4 separate regions of the Homo sapiens genome follow, and regions 2, 3 and 4 are each linked to region 1. Evidence: fine-mapped expression QTL. A gene starts in region 1. Each other region holds a variant in brackets. All regions are shown on one strand. Distances are from middle to middle.

Region 1 (5,151 bases):
AGAGCAAAAGGAAAAATATTACCAGAATTTAAAAACAAATAGAAGGCCAGGCACAGTGGCTCACGCCTGTAATCCCAGCACTTTAGGGGGCCGAGGTGGGTGGATCACCTGAGTTCGGGAGTTCAAGACCAGCCTGGCCAACATGGCGAAACTCCATCTCTACTAAAAATACAAAAAAATTAGCCAGGTGTGGTGGCGGGCGCTCCCAGCTACTTGGGAGGCTGAGGCAGGAGAATTGCTTGAACCTGGGAGGTGGAGGTTGCAATGAGCCAAGATCGTGCCATTGCACCCCAGCCTGAGCAACAAGAGCGAAACTCCATCTCAAAAATAAATAAATAAATAAATAAATAAATACATGAAGGAGAAAGAAGAAAATATTAATAGTTAGCTATTGAATGAAGATAATTCAACAATCATTTCTTGGGGGACTACCATGTGGATGCTATGAACAAACAGGTAATAGTTACAAGGTTTTGTTAACTGTACCTTACATGGGCTCACATTGTTGGATAGGTGGGTTAGAAGGGCAAGGATGGCTTCAGCACAGTTTCCAGAACCCAGCTGGCCAGGAATCTGATTCTGATGCTACCTAAAACAGGTTCCTTGAGCCCTGTTATTTAGTAAGCCTGGCATTGGATCCTAGGTATTCTTTTGATTTATTTGGAAAAAATCCCACAGTTAAGTTGGGGAGTCGTTTCGGCTCCACTGTTTTTCTTACAGCTTTACTCATGAGTGCAATGATGCAGAAATACGAAGTAATTGTTAGGGTGGGAGGAAGTTTCCCCCAGAGATATATGACACATGATAAACATTACATTGTAATATGTAAAATAATACATTTGCATATATATATATGTTCTGAGAACTCTAAGTCTCTGGCTGGAGAACTAATGAGAACATGACCGTACCAACATGTTTGAGAGGAGTTAATAATCTAATAATCCTGGGATGTGACTATCTGACAGAGGATTGGAACTCTGGAGCTGAAAAGTGATGGTGATGGTGAGGGGGAGTAACTGTTCACAGATTCACTCATCTAACACGTATTTATTGAGCCCTTATATGCCAGGGATTGTACTAAGATCTACAGATCAATAAGGAGCAAAATTCAACATGTTTTCCCCTTCAACGGAGTTTACTACCTAAAGCGGTGGTCTTTAAAGTGGGGTACATATACCCCAAGGATTGAGTGAGATGATGCCATCAGAAAGCAACTACAATACAGGGTGGTGATGCTATAATGGAAACCAAGATACACACATCAACAAAGAACTGTGTAAAAACGCAGCCTTTGGGGGATGGGAAAAAACAGCAAAACGTCATACTTAATCATACAATAAGAAAAATCACTTGATATTTAATGCATAGCTTGACAGTTATATAAGCCTGAACTTAAAGATATTTTGGTCAAATGGGCTTAAAACATTTTATTGATAGGTAAGCACAATTCAAACAAGTGCGGCGTAAAACTTAAGACTTTTGGAATCTCAAGTTAAATTAGAAACTTTTAAAACCTGGAAAGGCAAAACTTAGATGGGATGACAGAGATGAACCCTGGCCTTGGACTACTGGCAGAAGCGTGAAGAATGAAGGAGATATCTCAAAAAAATAGTCTATGCCACCAGCATATGCTTTTCTCATGTCCCTTGATGTCCATAGCAGCATTTACCACTCTGCATTGTAGTTGCTTCCTGACTGTATCATTTTCCAGGCCCAAGAAGTCCTTGAAGGTTTCAAATTTTGAATACCTAACATAGTATCTAGCAAATTGAAGTCATTCAGTGTTTGTGGAGCTCAATGGCAACTGACAATCTCGATTCTTTGTATATGTTTAATTTACTTAATTTGTACATGGTTTGTATACTTGCATTCCTATTGCAATGGCCCACTGCCTGGAACACAGCTGGCACGTGATAAGCATTACATTGTAAATATGTAAAAGAATAAATTTGCCGGCCAGGCTCGGTGACTCACGTCTGTAATCCCAGCACTTTGGCAAGCTGAGGCGAGCGGATTACCTGAGGTCAGGAGTTCGAGACCAGCCTGGCCAACATGGCGAAACCTCATCTCTACTAAAAATACAAAAATTAGTCGGGTGTGGTGGCGCGTGCCTGTAATTCCAGCTACTTGGGAGGCTGAGGCAGGAGAATCGCTTGAACCCGGAAGGTGGAGGTTGCAGTGAGCTGAGATCGCGCCACTGCACTCCAGCCTGGGCAACAGAGCGAGACTCTGTCTCAAAAAAGAAAAAAAAAGAAAAAAAAGAATAAATTTGCCTACATTAAATAGCCGACTGTTAGGTGGATGCACATAGAGGAGTAAGAATACAGCAAGAGGGGCACACGAAGAAAGGCTAAATCTCTGGGGTTTGAATGGGGAAACAGTAGGATACAAAGCTAATGAAGGTCTTTAATTATCCAAATATCAGTGAAAAACAGCAAGGATCTTCCGTTTATGCCCTGAACCCCCTTTGTCTTAAGTGCTTAAATATGCTTAGCTGAAAAGACACTGATTCCATCTTTCCTCATTTAACAATCCTTTAGAATAATTTCTAGAGTAGAAATGGAGTTGATAGTGGCTTCCAAAGAAAAATCAGAATCCCTAAGAAAAATACACGGTAAATCCTTTGCAAGGGAGTTATGGTTACAACAGTTTTGAGTCGTTTTGTTCTTGTTCCTTTATCTTGTTCAACTGCAGACCTTCACTCCGGCGGTCTCCGTGGGCATTTAACCCTTTCAGCTTTAACGATGAAGTGGATCCCCTTCAGCATGACATAACTCATAGAGGAGACCGTAACGAGGGTGGGCTTCTGCCACCCAAATGCGGCCACAGACTCCTGCCACGCCTGGCAGTAAAAAAACCAGAGTTCAGGGCATCGACAACTTCACCGGGGCTATTGCGCAGGCTCTGCGTTCCACGCAGGCTTATTAGGAAGAAAGGGGAAAAAAATTTCCCAGAGACACGTGGAACCGAGGGGCCAACCCCGGCCTAGGCTCTCCACCGCATCGGATTCTGGAATTTACGATCACGAAAGTTCTATTGTCCCGCGATTGGCTCCCGGGCCGCATGACATCATAGCGCTTGATTCATCCTTCGGGTCCCGATTGGCTGGCCGCGCCATTGTGACGTCACGGTCAGCCCACGTTCTGATTGTAGATAGCCGGCGCCTTCCTCTTCCCATCGCGCGGGTCCTAGCCACCGGTGTCTCCTTCTACATCCGCCTCTGCGCCGGCTGCCACCCGCGCTCCCTCCGCCGCCGCCGCCTTGCTGCTGCTCAAAGCTGCTGCCGCCCCTTGGGCTAAAAGGTAAAGCCGTCAGCTCCGGGAAACTTCGTCGGGGGCCGCCGCTCGGCCATGACACCCGCGCGAGCGCGCGGCCGGGAAGCGGTCAGAGAGAACTGCCGTTAGGTCTCGGACCTGGTGCCGAGAAAGAGCTGCCGGGGCAACCCGCGCTCCGCCCGCGGCCTCCAGCTCCGCCGGCTCCGGGGTACAGCCCGGCTCCTCGGGCGCGGGGAAAGGGGTGCGGGTGCGGGCGCGGGCGGCTCGCCCCACGCCGAGGCTGAGGCAGGGCGCTCGGGAGCGTTCTCTGTGCTGCGGTCCCACCTGTGCGCGCTGACAGGCGCCGCGGGGCACGACACCGTGCCCACACCAGACGCGGAGGGATGGATCTGTCCGCCTGGGTCCTCCCGCCCTGCGGGCCGGAGCGCGCGGCGGGAGAGCCGGGGGAGCGCTCTCGGAGGGAGCGCGCTTTCTTTGGAGTCGGCGAAACCCGGGTGAGTTCGAAGAGCCTGTGCGAGGGTCTGCGGGCACCGGGCGCCGCTGGGGGGACTCTCCGGCCTTTCCTTTTTGTCCTGTTCTCTCCGCTTCCGTTAACCCTGCGGACCTTCCGTCCGCCCCTCGGAGGGAAGCCTGCTAGCTCGGGACCGCTTCAGTTTTTATTGAAACCAGACAACGGCAGCCCTTGGTACTCAGGGAGGGATGAGGCTGGTGGGAAAGCGAGAGGGCGGGGACTCGGGGGCGACCGGGGCGGCCCTTTCTGGGAGCCTGATCCCTGGAGAGGCGGGAGCGGTTGGCTGCGAGGGAGGCGCGCGGCGGGGGGGCGGTTGTGCTCTGCGCCGGGGGAGCTAGAGTGTGTGTTGTCTTGCGAGTTGTAAGGAAAAGTGCCTTTTTACTGTTTCCACGCCGGTAAGACTCTCCCACCCCACCACCTCGGGTCGACGGAGCAATGCCTAGAGCAAGAGTTGTTCTTGCTGAACTGCGTCTTGCAACCGTTCCGTGTTCTTGCACTTGGCGGTTCCCCCCGCCCCATCCACAATTGTGAATTAAGCTCCTTGATTGCAAATTTGGAGAATGCATTTGGCCAGTTATGCAAAGTGGCGGAGGTGGCGGGGTCGGGGGCGGGGGGTCTCTTTCGGAAGAATCCAGTGCATGGTTTATTAGCTAGACTGAGGAACCGAGAGGTGCTAGATGGGATTTGTGGGGAGCGAGCAGCCTAATTTGTTTTAAATAGCGGGACCCGTGGCAGGAAGTGCTTCATAGAATTGTACGGAAGAGCTGATGTTGCTTGTCAGGTTTTGTAACTCATTCTCCTAACCGCTTGGCAGATAACCTGTTGGTCTGCACTTGTTTTGCTTGCACGTCTCAGCCAAAAGCATTTCGTGCAGAATCTACAGATAGAAACAGGCGGTTTTGCATTAGATGGCCGTGGACAAACATTTTAGCCTTCCATCTGTGATTGGGGACAAGTGGGTTACTTTTCTGGTAGCTCAGACACTGCCTGGGATTCTCCAGGAAAGCTCTGCACTTGAAAGGGAAATGTTACTCATTTTCCTTTTAGATTTTTACCCTAGATTCTAACTTCTTATTGCCAGGAACTTTTTCTGTACTGTTTCTCTTTTTGCATTTTCGTTTCTATTTCTAATTGAAGACAAAGGGGAAATTTTTATTGATAGTTACAGATAGGTAATGTTACAGAATGTAGTACAGAACTTTGCTGAAAAGCGACAGTAGAAGGCTTACTAAAATTTGATGTTTTTCAAGAAAAATATCTTGTAACTTCAGATATTGACCTCACCTCCTTGACTCAATTTCCTTGTCTATACATGGGGATTTTATGTGGCAGGATCATTGTGGATTTCAAGAGATAATGCAAATG
Region 2 (5,151 bases), 220 kb after region 1:
CCTCCACTCTAGTATTTCCACCCTCAGTAAGGAATGGAAACCTGTCCCGTCTGGGGTGTGAAGTGCCCTCTGCTTTTTCCCCCACATTGTTTGGGGTTCCCAGCACCTCAGCCACATTGCATGCTGGGTTTTCATTGTCATTGTTGCAAATGAAATGGAGTAGACATGTGAAATGCTAACCTATCTAGGACCTGATCTATGCCTTCTTGGGAACTGAGAATGAAGAAACAGAAATAGATGGTGGAAGAACTGCCTAAGGTGTGAAAAGCTGAAGATTCTACCACTGAAGTACTGAATATGTTGTCTAGTTGTGAGACTAGTGTGTAAAATATATGTTTTCTAGATGATTTCTGAGACTTGTGATGACAAGGAACCTGACCTAACCCCATTTTTCATAAAGACAAAGAACAGCAATGTTAAATTGCCATATGAAGAGAAACACTAGTGATGTGCGTGGTCTCCTTGCCTCTTGTTTCCTTCCCTCTTCCTCACTGACTTCCCCTTGCACAGGGGCTTCTGTTTTATCCCATTTATTATTTGTGGCACCTATATCAATGTGGGGTTTGTAATAGGTGAGAAATATTTGCTTGGAGAAGCTCTTGTGCAATTAGCCTGGCAATGATTGGCCGGCCATGTTTGAATGCCAGTTTCTCTTCTTTGCTGAAGTACTTTATGATAAAAGTAAGCCTAGACATAAAATCTGGAGAGAACCATGCAATAAACAAGTATTTTTGAAATAAATTATTCCTTCTCCTTTATTAGAATAGTAACAGATGCACATGATACAAAATTCAAAAGTGAAAAAAAAGAAGTCTCCTAGTTCTAGTCTCCCCTCTGCAACACTGACTAGTTTCTTGTCTATTATTCCAGATATTAGAAATGTTCTCTGCATATATATAATTATATGTAATGTGTATGAAATACATTACATAAAATACACACATATCTTTTATATATAAAATATATTTATATATATATATAAGAGAGAGATGACATAAGTGGTATCATATCAGATTCATTTCTAACATAGTTTTTGTCGTTTTAGGAGCCAATTTGAGCATTAAGTTCTTATAAGCATATAGGATCACAGCTGCTTCATTTTTAATGATGCATTATGCATTACATGACTATTATAATTAAATAGTCCCTATTGATAAACATTTAGATTTGTTCAAATCTTCTAAATTCATTTGTCTAAGTGACAAGACTATATATAAAACTTATATATTGGCCAGGCATGGTGGCTCACACGTGTAACCCCAGCACTTTTGGAGGCAAAGGCGGGTGGATCACTTGAGCCCAGGAGTTCAAGACCAGCCTGGGCAACATAGCGGGACCCCGTCTCTACCAAAAATTAAAAATTAGCTGGATGTCATCATGCATACCTGTAGTCTCAGCTACTTGGACCTGTAGTCTCAGCTACTTTGGAGGCAGGAGGATCACTTGAGTCAGGGAGGTCGATGCTTATCAAATCAGTGAGCCATGATTGTGCCACTGCATTCCAGCCTGGATGACAGAGTCTCAATCAATCAATCAATAAAAACCTTATATATTCAGTTTAGCAGAATTGTAAAGTGAATACTTGTGTAAACACTATCTGGACCAAGAAATAGGATCTACTGGCACTGCAGAAGTTCCCCTTACTGTGGATTTCAATCCCATCCACAACCCTCTCCCTGTATCCCAAAGGTGATCACTAGACTGGCTCTTTACATTTTTACTACCTTTGTATGTATCCCTAAACTATAGTTTCGTGTGGTCTTTTTGGGGAGCCTAACAAATAGAATCATATGGTATACTTTAAAGAATTAATTGAAGTGTAATGTACATATAGAAGAATCCACAGCTCATAGCATAGAGCTCAATTGTCATAAGAACACACCAGTCTAGCTATCATCTAGTTAGTGTACATTTTTTTATGATCTTGCCTTTTCTGCTCAACATTGTATCCATAAGAGGGTAGCTGTAATTTGTTATTTTCATTGCTGTAATACATTTCTTTATTCTCACTCTAAATGAAATGAAAGAGCTAAATAAACAGTAACTGTCTGAAGGAAACTTTAGCTCCTGTTGGTCCAAAGCTTTCTGGGTATTGCAAACATTTTACCTCCACCAGACTAGGCATCCTGTTATTCCAAACCTTTTCTCACTTTCAAAAACTATAATCTTAGCCAGGCATGATGGCTCATGCCTCTAATTCCAGCACCTTGGGAGGCCGAGGTGTGAGGATCGCTTGAGCCTAGGAGTTTGAGACCAGCCTGGGTAACATAGCAAGACTCTAAAAAATATTTTAAAAATTAGCTGGGTGTGGTGGTGTGCACCTGTAGTCCCAGCTACT[C/T]GGGAGGCTGAAGCAAGAGGATTGCTATAGCCCAAGAGGTTGAGGCTGCAGTGAGCCATGATTGTGCCACTGCACTCCAGTCTGCGTGACAGAGCCAGATCCTGTCTCAAAAAAATAAAAATAAATAAATAAAATCCAAAAAACTATTATATTGATATTTATCAAAGTAAGAACATGTACGTAGCTTAAAGGTCAGCTGGCATCACAAAGCTTACTATGAACAACAGCTGTCTCTACTCCCAAGTCCTATTCCCACCCCTCCAAGAGGTTTCCGCTTTTTAACTCCTTGAGTTATTTCTAGTAGTTACCTCTGTATTACTAGAGAATGTGCTTACACATCTTTTAGTTTTATATGTCTATTGTTTTCTGACTATAGATTAGGATTTAGGACATATGCACCACTCTCCGCCTAGATCATGCATTCTTCCAGCAAATTACAAAGATCAGTTGTATTGAAGTACAGTTTACATACAATAAAACACAACTCAGCCAGGCACAGTGGCTTATGCCTGTAATCCCAGCACTTTGGGAGGCTGAGATGGGCGGATCACCTGAGGTTGGCAGTTTGAGACCAGCCTGACCAACATGGAGAAACCCCGTCTCTACTAAAAATACAAAATTAGCCGGACGTGCTGGCACATGCCTGTAATCCCAGCTACTCAGGAGGCTGAGGCAGGAGAATCACTTGAACAGGGGAGGTGGAGGTTGCGGTGAGCCGAGATTGCGCCATTGCGCTTCAGGCTGGGCAACAAGAGCGAAACTCCGTCTCAAAACGAAAAACAAACAAACAAAAAACTCCACTCATTTTACAGAGTTTTGAACACTGTACATGTGGTCATTGTATACAATGAAACCTCACCAAAATCAAGATATAGAACATGGCAGTTCCCCTGAAAAGTCCTGCTGTGCCTTTTGCAGTCAATTCCCTCTGGGATCCCCAGCCCCCAGCAACTCCTGGAGCCTTTTATCTCTGAACAAGTGTGGGCAGGCTGCTGTCTGATCCTGTTGCTCCTTCATCTTTGGGCTTACTTTCCTCCCCTCTTGATTGGGTTCATGTCTTTCTTATTCTGGGTGTATTTCATCATTTTGGTAGAGCACACACCCTACTAGTTCTCTAAGAAAAGATCCATGGGAGATACATTTTTGGAGCACTTGAATGCCTGGAAATGTCTTAATCACATACTTGGTTTTTGTTTTTGTTCTTTGACTTGGCACAGAGTTTACCTGAGATTAGAAATGCAGGTTGAAAGTAATTTTCATACAAAATGGCCAGGTGCAGCGGCTCACGCCTGTAATCCCAGCACTTTGGGAGGGCAAGGTGGGTGGATCACCTGAGGTCAGGAGTTCGAGACCAGCCTGGCCAACATGGTGAAACCCCGTCTCTACTAAAAATACAAAAACAAAATTAGCCAGGTGTAGTGGCGCATGCCTGTAGGCCCAGCTACTGGGGAGGCTGAGGCAGGAGAATCACTTGAACCTGGGAGGTAGAGGTTGCAGTGAGCCGAGATCGCTCCGTTGCACTCAAGCCTGGGGTACAAGGGCAAAACTCTGTCCAAAAAAAAGAAAAAAGGCTGGGCGCAGTGGCTCATGCCTGCCTGTAATCCCAGCAATTTGGGAGGCCGAGGCAGGTGAATCACAAGGTCAGGAGTTTGAGACCAGCCTGGCCAATGTGGTCAAACGCCATCTCTACTAAAAATACAAAAAAAGAAATTAGCTAGGTGTGGTGGCCCATGCCTGTGGTCCCAGCTGCTCGGGAGGCTGAGGCAGAAGAATCGCTTGAACCTGGGAGGCAGAGGTTGCAGTGAGCCAAGATCGTGCCACTGCACTCCAGCCCGGGCAACAGAGTGAGACTGTCTCAAAAAAGTTCAAAAATCTGAAGTTACTGGTCCACTGTCCTCTAGTATTCAGAGCTGCTGTTGAGAAGTCTGGATATCATTTAGATTTCTGGTCCTTTGAACATGGCCTGCTTTTTCTCTCTAGGAGCTTTCAGATAGTTTAATTATTTCTCGTTACTTGAAATTTCATGACAATAAGGCTTGAATGGGCCTTTTCATTTTTTATTCATTGTATAAGGCCCTGAGGCTTTTTTTTTTTTTTTTTGAGACAGTCTCGCTCTGTCGCCCAGGCTGGAGGGCAGTGGCATGATCTCGGCTCACTGCAACCTCTGCCTCCCAGGTTCAAGCAATTCTTCTGCTTCAGCATCCTGAGCAGATGGGACCACAGGCGCCCGCCACCACGTCTGGCTAATTTTTTGTATTTTTAGTAGAGACGGGGTTTCACTGTCTTAGCCAGGATGGTCTCCATCTCCTGACCTTGTGATCCACCTGCCTCAGCCTCCCAAGGTGCTGGGATTACTGGCATGAGCCACCGCGCCCGGCCAGTGGCTTTTAATATAATCATTCATATTTTTTATTTCTTGGATATGTTCTTATATTTTTCAAAAATTTTTTTCTTTCTTTTTTCCGGTTGTCTTTTTGGAACTTTTTTCAGATGAGTATTGCATTCAACAAATTTTCACGGAGCACCTAAGAATGCTCTCATCCTGGGTGCTGTGCTTATGTGGGCTGCTCTGCCAGGCAAAACGGCATCTGCTCTGTTTAGTGAGCATTGACTGAGGGCAAGAAAGACACTTGGGCCTAGAAAATGTTACAGGATATTACATTGAATCCTGAGTGTAAGGATTCAAACCTGTTAAGGTTAAGATAAAATACAAATAGAAAAATGTGAAAGGGGTTGGGCATGGTGGCTCACTCCTGTAATCCCAGCACTTTGGGAGGCCAAGGTGGGTGGCTTACTTGAGGTCAGGGCTTTGA
Region 3 (5,151 bases), 63 kb after region 1:
TTGCCCAGGCTGGAGTGCAGTGGTGCTCACTGCTTCTCGCCTCCTGGGCTCAACTGATCTCCCGCCTCAACCTCCCAAGTGGCTGGGACTACAGGAGCATGCCACCACGTCTAGCTAAGTTTTGTATTTTTCGTAAAGACAAGGTTTCATCATGTTGTCCAGGCTAGTCTTGAACTCTTAGGCTCAAGCAATCCACCCACCTCTGCCTCCCAAAGTGCTGAGATTACAGACATGAGCCACTACATCTGGCCAATAGGAAGAAGTCTTGAAAGAAGGGAGATGATCAGAAGGAAATGAAAGGAAGTCACTGAAACTTTAAATTTACTAGAAGGAAAATAACTAAATCCCAGTTTTAAAACTGTGAAACCGAGTTTAAAATGTAGAAGGAATATAGACTTGCTCATAGTTTGTGTACTTGGTAGAAACAAAATTAAAAGGAGAGAAGAGGTATTACTTCTATATCTCATTAACTTTAGTGTTTATTTCCAGGAAAAAGGTCATAGATCCCTGATTTGGAGCATATTTGAATTAGTGGTATGTTTTAATTTGAAAGTATTGGACTTTATAGCAATCCTTTTTGCTTTTGCTTATTAGGGGTTGTCTAATATCACAGTCCATGGTGAAAGCTCGGAAATGAAATTCCAGGTTATAGAAGAGAAACAACTTAGTTTGCATTAGTTACTTAGCTTTGTAAAACGATGCCCTTACAGCAAACTTAAAAATCTTGTGCGCCTTTTAGCCACCCGAGATTCAGGGCATTTGTCCTCTGAAGAGAAGCCTGATTTTTTGCACTATCCATGTGTCTTTTCTCTTGTCTCCAGTCCCAAAATTGAGAACCTCTACATACATGGTGCCAAACGGTGGCTTTCCCTCACTCTGCCTTATCTACCTGGTTGGATCAGGTTTCCCCTGACCCATCCAGTGAGCTATCAAAGCCACTTTTAACTCCTTTGTTAGAGTGTTACAGGTGGTTTCCCTCTTAGGCAGATGCTCTGTCCTCATGTGAAGCCATTCAATGTGTCTACTCTTCTCCTGCTGTGCCTCAGACCTCTTAGACCCTAAGCAGAGAGGATCTAATTGTGTTTGTTACAGTCCAAAAGGGAGCAACCCCGTCGATCTGCCTGTGCCTCACGAACTGATCCTTCGACTCAGCAGCAGCTGCCAGAAAACAGGGTCAGTGTTGTGCAGTGCACATGGCTTTGAATTCCCCAGGAACACTGTGTTGAAAGGATGGCTGGCTCCTTTCCTCAGAAGGAGGCACTCCGGCCTTTCTTAGCCGATCTGTTATGCTGAGCTCTACTCAAACCCCAGCAACACCAGGCTCTTTCATTCTTCTGGGCTCTACCCCTTAAAACTCCCACTTCTGCCTGGCAGTCTCCCTCTCACTTTTGAGGACTGTGTGGAAGGATCCAATTCCTCTGTGAAGCCATGAGCGTACTAAGGAAGAGGACTCAACTCTAGAGAGTGAATTTTTTTTTCTCCCAGCCTCTTTGGCTATCCCATTGTTCCCACGGACTATGATGCATTCCTTTCAAAGTACTCTCATGATGTGCCCCTTAGCATCCCATCCTTGCCCCACTGACACTCACTGGCTTAGGCTAGAATGAAACAATGTTTTCCCCACCTTCTTCATCCCACTGTTACTATACCTGATTACTCCACCAAATGGATCCTGAGTATTAGAATACAAAAATAAGCAAATGTCGGAACCACATTTTCAAGTTATTTAGTAGTCAAAGATAAATCATGGGTTACAGACAAGATTATTTTTTGAGTATCTGTGTATGTTTCCTCCCTTGCAGTTAGAACTATATGTTGTGAATAGTGTGAGAGAATGCGCTTTAAAATATTCAGAACATTTAAAATGTAATTTTGAAAGAAAAAAATTTGTAATTTTGAAAAAGCTGGATGGATGCATCTGGCTTGGCATAAATCCAAACTTATCTTTCTTCCCCTTTTCAATTTTTATTTTAAATTGTAATTTTGGAACTATTTGAAAATATTTAAAATAAAATTATATAGATGATATCTGTGCACCTAACAAATGCTTGATTTTTGTTTGTTTGTTTAAATAAGAAAACATTACAAAAATGCATCTAAAGTACAGTCCCTTTCCAGACTTCTTCGGAAATTTGTACAGTTTTTCTCTGGATGTATTTTTACTACATATATATGTATACATGACAACACATAGTACGTTCTAAGATAGTTTTTAAAAACCATACGTGAATGGTATACTAATTAAACTCTTTTTCAAATAGATTTTTTTCAGTCAGTATATTTTTGACCAATTCATCTTGAGTCGTATAGATGTAATTCATTAATTATAATTATGTTAATTATAGTTAATTAGAAATTCATTTTATCTGCTTTGTATTATTTCAGTGTTGGAATTTATTACACCATTTTATAAGTGTTTCTTTGGATGGATATGTATGTTGTTAGATTGTTTTTTGTTGTTGTTTTTTGAGACAGAGTCCGGCTCTGTTACCCCGGCTGGAGTTCAGTGGCACAATCATACCTCACCCACTGCAGCCTAGAACTCCTGGCCTTAAGCGATCCTCCCACCTCAGCCTCCTGAGTAGCTGGGACTACAGGCATGTGCCACCATGCCTGGCTAATTTTTTTATTTTTGGTAGAAACATTGTCTCACGGTGTTGCCTGGACTGATCTCAAACTCCTGGACTCAAAGTGATCCTCCCACATCAGCCTCCCAAAGTGCTAGGATTACAGGTGTGAGCCACTGTGCCCAGCTATGTGGGTTTATGCAAGTTGTTCAATTAACAGTGTGCCAAGAATCTTCTTAGACATATCTCCTTATGCAAATATGGTAAGTTTTTTGACCAGATAAATGCATAGGGGTTTAATGACTGAATCCGACAGTCTCTTGTCTTTAATGGGGAAATTTAATTCATTTTCATTTAGCATGTTAATAGTTATTTTATACCTCAGATATTGCAGCATTAGTTGCAGATCACTGCAATAAAATGAGTATTGCAATAAAGTAAGTCATACCATTTTTGGTTTC[G/C]CAGTGCATATAAAAGTTATGTTTACATTATGGTCTATTAAGTGTGCAATCGCATTAAATCTTAAAAAAAAACAGTAGACATACCTAAATTTAAAAATGCTGGCCAGGCACAATGGTGTACATCTGTAATCCTAGCACTTTGAGAGGCCGAGGTGGGAGAATTGCTTGAGGCCAGGAGTTTGAGACCAGCCTGGGCAACATAGCAAGATCCTCTCTCTACAAAAAATTTTATAACTAGCCTGGCATGGCTCGAGCTTGTTGTCCTAGCTACTTGGGAGGCCGAGGTGGGAGGATGGCTTGTGCCCAGGAGCTCAAGGTTCCGGTGAGCTATGACCACACCACTGCACTCCAGCCTGGGTGACAGAGTAAAACCCTATTTATAAGAAAAAAAAGATAAATTAAAAATAAAAATGCTCCCAGGTGCAGTGGTATGTGCTACAGTTTAGTGTAGCCATGTTCGTCAGTGATCTTAGTTAAATCTTCCAGATAACTGGCTGCAGCTTCTATAGCAGCACTTGCTGCTACACCTTGCCCTTTTGTGTTATGGAGATGACTTCTTCCCTTAAACCTTATGAGCTATCCTCTGCTATTTTCAAGCTTTTCTTCTGCAGCTTCATCACCTCTCCCAGGCTTCACAGAATTGAAGTGAGTTAGTGGCTTGCTCTGGATTAGATTTTGGCTTAAGGGAATGTTATGGCTGGTTTGATCTTCTACCTAGACCACTCAAACTTTCAGCAATAAGGCTACTAATGCTTTCTCATCATTTTTATGTTCATACGAGTAGCACTTTTAATTTCCTTCAGTAACTTTTCCTTTGCATTCACAACGTGGCTAACCTGGTACGAGAGGCCCAGCTTTCGTCCTGTCTCAGCTTTCCACCTGCCTTCCTCACTAAGCTTAATCATTTCTAGCTTTTGATGTAAAGTGAGAGACATGCTACTCTTCCTTTCACTTCAGCACTTAGAGGCCATTGTAGGATTATTAACCCAATTTCAATATTGTTGTATCTCAGGAAATAAGGAGGCCAGAGAAGAAAGAGATGGTTAGGGGGAACAGCAAGTCTGTGGAGCAGCTAAAATACAGACAATATTTGTTGAGTTTGCTGTCTTATATAGGTGTGGTTCATGGCACCTCAAAACAATTACAATGGTAACATCAAAGTTCAGTAACCACACACAGATCGCCACAACAGATATAATAATAGTGAAAAAATTTGAAATATTTTGAGAAATATTTTATAATTGTGAGAATTACAAAAATGTGACACAGTAACACATAGTGAACACGTGCTGTTGTAAAAATGGTACCAATAGAGTTGCTTAATGCAGAGTTGCCACAGACCTCAGTTAAGAAAACCTGTAATATATACAAAGTGCAATAAAGCAAAGATGAGGTATGCCTGTACTTTCTGTCACCTTTTTTGTGTATATATGTTTTCTTTGGCCTTCTTTTCTCCTTTACTGCTTTGTAGAATTTTTGTAACCATTATTTTTTATTGTACTTATTCAAAAGTTATTCATTCTGTTGAGTGGTTACCCATAGATGTTTACCATGCATTTTTAACTTACGACAGTTTCAGTTGAGTCAGTATTTCTATTCTCCTAAACAATACCAGGGACCTTAGAGGATTCTAGCTGTGACCCCTCATCTTTCATGTTACTGTTGTCAGGAGTTATTTCTACCTTTTTTTTTAAAAAAAAAAAAAGATGGTCTTGCTCTGTTGCCCAGGCTGAAGTGCAGTGACATGGTCATAGCTCATTGTAACCTCAAACTCCTGGGCACAAGTGATCTTCCTGCCTCAGCCTCCCAGGCAGCTGGGACTGCAGGAGCATGCCACTGTGCCCAGCTAATATTTTTATTTTTTGTAGAGATGGAGTCTCACTTTGTTGCCCAAGCTGGTCTCAAATTCCTGGGCTCTGGCAGTCCTCCCACCCTGGCCTCCCAAAGCACTAGGATTACAGGCGTGAGCCACCACATCTGGCCTCACTTTTTTTTTTTTTTAAGGTCCTAAATAATCACCATTATTGCCATCAGTGTTTACTGATTTTCTTTGCTCTGTGAAATTTATTCTTTCCTTTTTGATTCAATTTTTTTCGTAAGTAGTTCTTTCTATGAAGGGCAAT
Region 4 (5,151 bases), 110 kb after region 1:
TAGACTTTTAGTTCTATTGGTGAAGGTACAATATATAATAGAAAGAAACTCCAACAATCCCATACTAAACCTTTGCCCTTTGCTCGGGCTCTTAAAGGATTCACGTGCTTCCAGCTCGTAACTAGTGTTGTCCTACTTTTGCTTGTATTGTAATTGATCTCCTTTCTTGGGTTTTTTTTTCTTTTCTTTTCTCACATAAACCTTCTCTACCTTTTGTACTGCTTGTCTCACATACTATTAAGCCTAATTTGAATTTTTTGTTATAGTCTTCAGTTTCCCAACACTGTTTATACTTCTTTAAACAATAGATTTCATCTGCATGGTAGACAGAATGCCCATGAGTCCCAAGATGTCCATGTCCTAATTCCTAGAACTTGTAGATATGTTACCTTATATGGCAAAGGGGACTTTGCAGATGTGATGAGATGGGGGGATTATCCTAAATTATCTAGGTGAGCTTAATAGAATGCATGAGCCCTTAAAAGGGGAGAACCAGGCCTGGTGTGGTGGCTCACACCTGTGCTCCCAGCACTTTGGGAGGCCAAGGCAGGCGGATCACCTGAGGTCAGGAGTTCAAGACCAGCCTGGCCAACATGTCAAAACCCCGAGAGTCCATCTCCAGTGTTTGAGACGGGGTTTCACTCTGTCGCCCAACAGGAGGGCATATATCCTCTATCTCCCATTACCAAAGATTGATTCAGGCATCCCTTCTTGATCTTTCTAGGAGCTGTGAAGTTGCAGAATTTTGGTTTATTGGGATGCATCCTGGTGCTTGCCTACAGATCTTGTTTTGCAAGTAAGAACAGAAGACTCTGGCCGGGCGTGGTAGATTATGTCTGTAATCCCAGCACTTTGGGAGGCCAAGGGGGGGCGGATCACCTGAGGTCAGGAATTCAAGACAAGCCTGGCCAACATGGCGAAACCCCATCTCTACTAAAAATACAAAAATCAGCCAGGTGTGGTAGCACGCACCTGTAATCCCAGCTAGTCTGGAGGCTGAGACAGGAGAATCACTTGAACCCGGGAGGCAGAGGTTGCAGTAAGCCGAGATCGCACCACTGCACTCCAGCCTGGGTGACTCTGTCTCACAGAAAAAAAAAAAAAAAAAAACCACAGGAGACTCTAGGGAGGCCACCAGGCCTGTCAAGGTTGCATGGTTCTCAGGTGGCAGGCTGGTATCACACCCCCCGCCCTGACTCACAAACTGTTCCTATTTTCATTTCCTTCCCCTTAAAAAAAGTAGAACTATCTCACTGATGTAAGAAGAACATACTTGGCTTTTTTTCTCGTAAGGAGTCTTAAAAAACACACTGATAGTTGACACTGTATATATCAAGGTTTTCTGGCAAAAATTTCCATGGAATGTAGTTCAGAGAGATGCTCCAGAAAAATTTTTAAAAAGCCTCTGTGGTCAAATAAGCTTGGAAAATGCAGTATGTTTGTTCCTGCCTTGGAATGTCATCACATACATAAGCTTAATAAAACTTCTCAGAAGTCTATAGTAAAGAAGTTCTAGTTCAGTTTTCCCTTTTCATATAACACCCATTAGCAGGAGGCAAGAAATGCTAGTACAGAAGTGGCTTCATGTCTTTTCTCTGTCCCTTTCACTTGTTGCGTGGCTGGTTTAGCACTGTAGGTGGCTCTGGCCTGAGTACGCAATGTGACCCTTTGGGAGTCAAGCAGGTGAGTGCATCCCAGAGCCTGCTGATTACCACCCATTCTTCCTTCCTTTCTCATCGACGGGAACCCCATTTTATGTGGGTCAATGAGTGCTGAGGCTCCCTTGAAGCTTGGTGTGGCCATGTGACATAGTTCTAACCCATGAGATGGGAACAGAAGTCTCTAGAGGGACTTTCAGAAAAGCTCATACATGCATTTTTCTTCATCATTCATTTTCCTGCCTAGAGTGCAGAGGCAATACATGGAGATGCAGCAGCCATCTTGTGACCATGAGGACAAAGATCATTTACCAAGGATGACAGAAGAGAAAGTTAGCAAGAGCCTTGACCCCTGATGAGGTGAAGTCATTTCACCAGCCTATCACAGCTTCTAGTCTTCTTGGGAATGTAAGAAAAACAAACTGTTATTTGCTTAAGCTCTTATAGCTAAGTTTCTGTTCCGTGCAGCTATTATTCTAATCAAAATAATGTTTCAGTGTTTATTCCTGAATATCACATAATTTTGCTCTGTAGGTGTCATCTTGGCTTTCTTTATGAATGGCAATTACTGGCTGGGTGCGGTGGCTGAGATGGGTGGATCACTTGAGGTCAGGAGTTCGAGACCAGCCTGGCCAACATGGTAAAACCCTGTCTCTACTAAAAATACAAAAAAATTAGCCAGGTGTGGTGCCACATGCCTGTAATCGCAGCTACTTTGGAGGCTGAGGTAGGAGAATCACTTGAACCCAGGAGGCGGAAGTTGCACTGAGCCAAGATATCACCATTGCACTCCACCCTGGGCAACAAGAGTGAAACTCTGTCTCAAAAAAAAAAAAAAAGAAAAAGAAAAGAGAAAAGAAAAGAAAAGAAAGGCAATTACTGGATAGGGTCTAAGAAGTTTACAAAGCAGGCCAGCAACAGCATCAAGTCATTCAAGTCAGTGTTTCTCAATGTGGCCCCCAGACCAGCAGCCTCAGCACCACCTGGGAACGTATTAGAAGTGCACATCCTCCGACCTCGCCCTAGACCTGCTGAACCTGAGACTCCAGGGGTGGGGCCCAGCAACTGGTGTTTCAGCAAGCCCTCCTGGTGCTCCTTACATACGAACTTTTTAGAACCATTTTAGAACTTAGTTTAGAACTAACATTTTAGAATTTAGTTACACATTCAACCTCAATGAATTTGTAAACCCACGAAAGGTCACTTTGAATGAAATAGTTGAGTTTGAACAGCAAGACTCATGCCCACACCTAACAACAGAGCACAGGCTTTGTGAGAAAAGGTGTCTGGCTTTGCCTTGGAAATTCAAACTGAGATAGAAGTACTATAAAGGGGCCAGGTGTGGTGGCTCACGCCTGTAATCCCAGCACTTTGGGAGGCC[G/A]AGGTGGGCGGATCACGAGGTCAGGAGATCGAGACCTTCCTGGTTAACACGGTGAAACCCCGTCTCTACTAAAAATACAAAAAATTAGCCAGGCATGGTGGCATGTGCCTGTAGTCCCAGCTACTCGGGAGGCTGAGGCAGGAGAATCGCTTGAACCCAGGAGGTGGAGGTTGCAGTGAGCAGAAGGAGCAACTCTGTCTCAAAAAAAAAAAAAAAGTACTATGAAGGTAACAGTGACAGAAATGGAAGCTACCACCACTTAAAGAGTGTGGTTAATTGTGGTTCATGTCAAGGTACCAAGAGGCTAGTGTTGCAATTTTCTTTTCTCTACACTTTGCTTTGCTTTGAGATGGAGTCTCACTCGGCTGCCCAGGCTGGAGTGCGGTGGTGTGATCTCAGCTCACTGCAACCTTTGCCACCTGGACTCAAGCGATTCTCCTGCCTCGGTCTCCCGAGTAGCTGGGATTACAGGCGTGCGCCACCACACCTGGCTAATTTTTGTATTTTTAGTAGAGACATGGTTTCACTATGTTGCCCAAGCAGGAGTCTTGAACTCCTGACCTCAATTAATCTGCCCACCTCATTCTCCCAAAGTGCTGGGATTACAAGCATGAGCCACTGCTCCCAGCCAGTATTGCAATTTTCACAGGAGGCTTTCACTTTACCTTTTCTTAATAACATACTGTTCCCTTGCCTCCAACTTGGTTCACTGGATAGAGTATATAGATAAGATTTGTACAAATCTCAGCAATTTAAGAATTTGCAAATGTGCATAGGAGTGAAGACAAGGTAAGAGTGCGATTAGAAATGCTCAGTGTGGCTGGAAATGTAATGAGCATGCTTTATTCTCACTCTCAACTTGAGATCTCCAAACTCACTCTATTCCATCCCACGGTATCTGCTTTCTCCTTTCTATTAAGCAACCAACCATTACTGAGCATTCTCGATTTTCCAAGGAAGGTGCTCATATATTTTTGGTGAATCCCATGAAGCCCATATTTGTAGCGGACATATGCTGTAATCCCAGAAGCAGAAGGGACCTGGTCCTCCTTTCTCCACTCTCCCCACACTGTGGAAGCTTCAGGGCACAGAGGCGATTGAGAGTTGCTCAGCAGCAGTGGTGCTGAGCATTTAGCTCTGGCCACAATATCCGGTGGCCAGTGCAGTTGATGTCAACATCAGTTTCCCAACCAGACCAACCCTGAGGCTTTGCCCTGCATGACTTTCCCTGCTCCCTGAGCTCCCTTAGGTTCTGCTAAGCCTGGTTCTATAGCCTTCCCTTCTATTGTGTGAATTGTCCAAAACTGATTCAATAAATTCCTCTTTTGCCTAAGCAAGCCAGAGTCACTTTCTGTTCGCTTTCAACTTAGAAGTCAAAGTAACATAATATTATTGCCATCTTTTTTAAGTGAAGACACTGACATTTGGAGGTCAAGGAACTTGCCAGATGTGTAATACCCAGCCTCCAAGATGGCCCCCAGTGATCTTCACCTCTTAGGTATTTATTTGCATAGTCTACTCCCATGTTGAATTAGGACTGGTCTGTGTAGAGTTCAGCAGGGATAATATGTGACTTCTGAATTGAGAGCATAAAGGACTTTGCAGCATCTGTCTTGCTCTCTTGGATTGCTTACTCTGGGCAAAGCCAGCACCATGCTGTGAGAATGTATTTACCATGTCTTTTATTTTTGTATTTTTATGCCTGTCCCAGGACTAGCCAGTTTTTAGAAATAGCAAACAACCATGAGGGTGCGTCACAAATGTAAACCAATCAATCCAGAGCCCACACACTGCCACCTCCATTATGGGCTCTCACCCTCCAGGCCACTATCCACCTGCCCTAATCACCCCAGGAGTAGGAACTAGGCAACTAGGGATAGCCCGTATGGCCCAGAGCCTGCTGAAATGATTCAAACTATTCAATCCAAAGCCCAATTACCCTCCCTCACTCATTCCTTCCCACAGAAACCACAATAAAAGTTTGTGCCCCTGGCCAGGCGCGGTGGGTCACGCCTGTAATCCCAGCACTTTGGGAGGCCAGGGCGGGCAGATCACAAGTTCAGGAGAATGAGACTACCCTGGCTAACACAGTGAAACCCCGTTTCTACTAAA

Evidence for each region. PIP is the estimated chance that this variant, and not a neighbour inherited with it, causes the effect.
Region 2: its variant is fine-mapped to the expression of ELOVL5 in whole blood (TOPMed, PIP 0.95).
Region 3: its variant is fine-mapped to the expression of ELOVL5 in whole blood (TOPMed, PIP above 0.99).
Region 4: its variant is fine-mapped to the expression of ELOVL5 in whole blood (TOPMed, PIP above 0.99).

What each region holds. Positions count from the first base shown.
Region 1 is chr6:53,346,968-53,352,118 of GRCh38, reverse strand. ELOVL5 (ELOVL fatty acid elongase 5) reads left to right here and starts at 3,169. Exons shown (of 8, transcript NM_021814.5): 1 at 3,169-3,302. RefSeq lists a silencer at 3,329-3,768.
Region 2 is chr6:53,122,551-53,127,701 of GRCh38, reverse strand. GCM1 (glial cells missing transcription factor 1) reads left to right here. Exons shown (of 6, transcript NM_003643.4): 6 at 1-741. Among named protein-coding and RNA genes, the nearest start is that of GCM1, 24 kb to the left of the region's middle. The variant C/T (reference allele first, on the strand shown) is at 2,339.
Region 3 is chr6:53,283,884-53,289,034 of GRCh38, reverse strand. The region is part of intron 3 of ELOVL5 (ELOVL fatty acid elongase 5); the gene reads left to right. Among named protein-coding and RNA genes, the nearest start is that of MIR5685, 9.5 kb to the right of the region's middle. The variant G/C (reference allele first, on the strand shown) is at 3,029.
Region 4 is chr6:53,241,186-53,246,336 of GRCh38, reverse strand. It overlaps LOC124901332 (a long non-coding RNA gene), which reads left to right. Exons shown (of 4, transcript XR_007059612.1): 2 at 725-796; 3 at 1,906-2,066; 4 at 2,193-2,292. Among named protein-coding and RNA genes, the nearest start is that of MIR5685, 33 kb to the left of the region's middle. The variant G/A (reference allele first, on the strand shown) is at 3,040.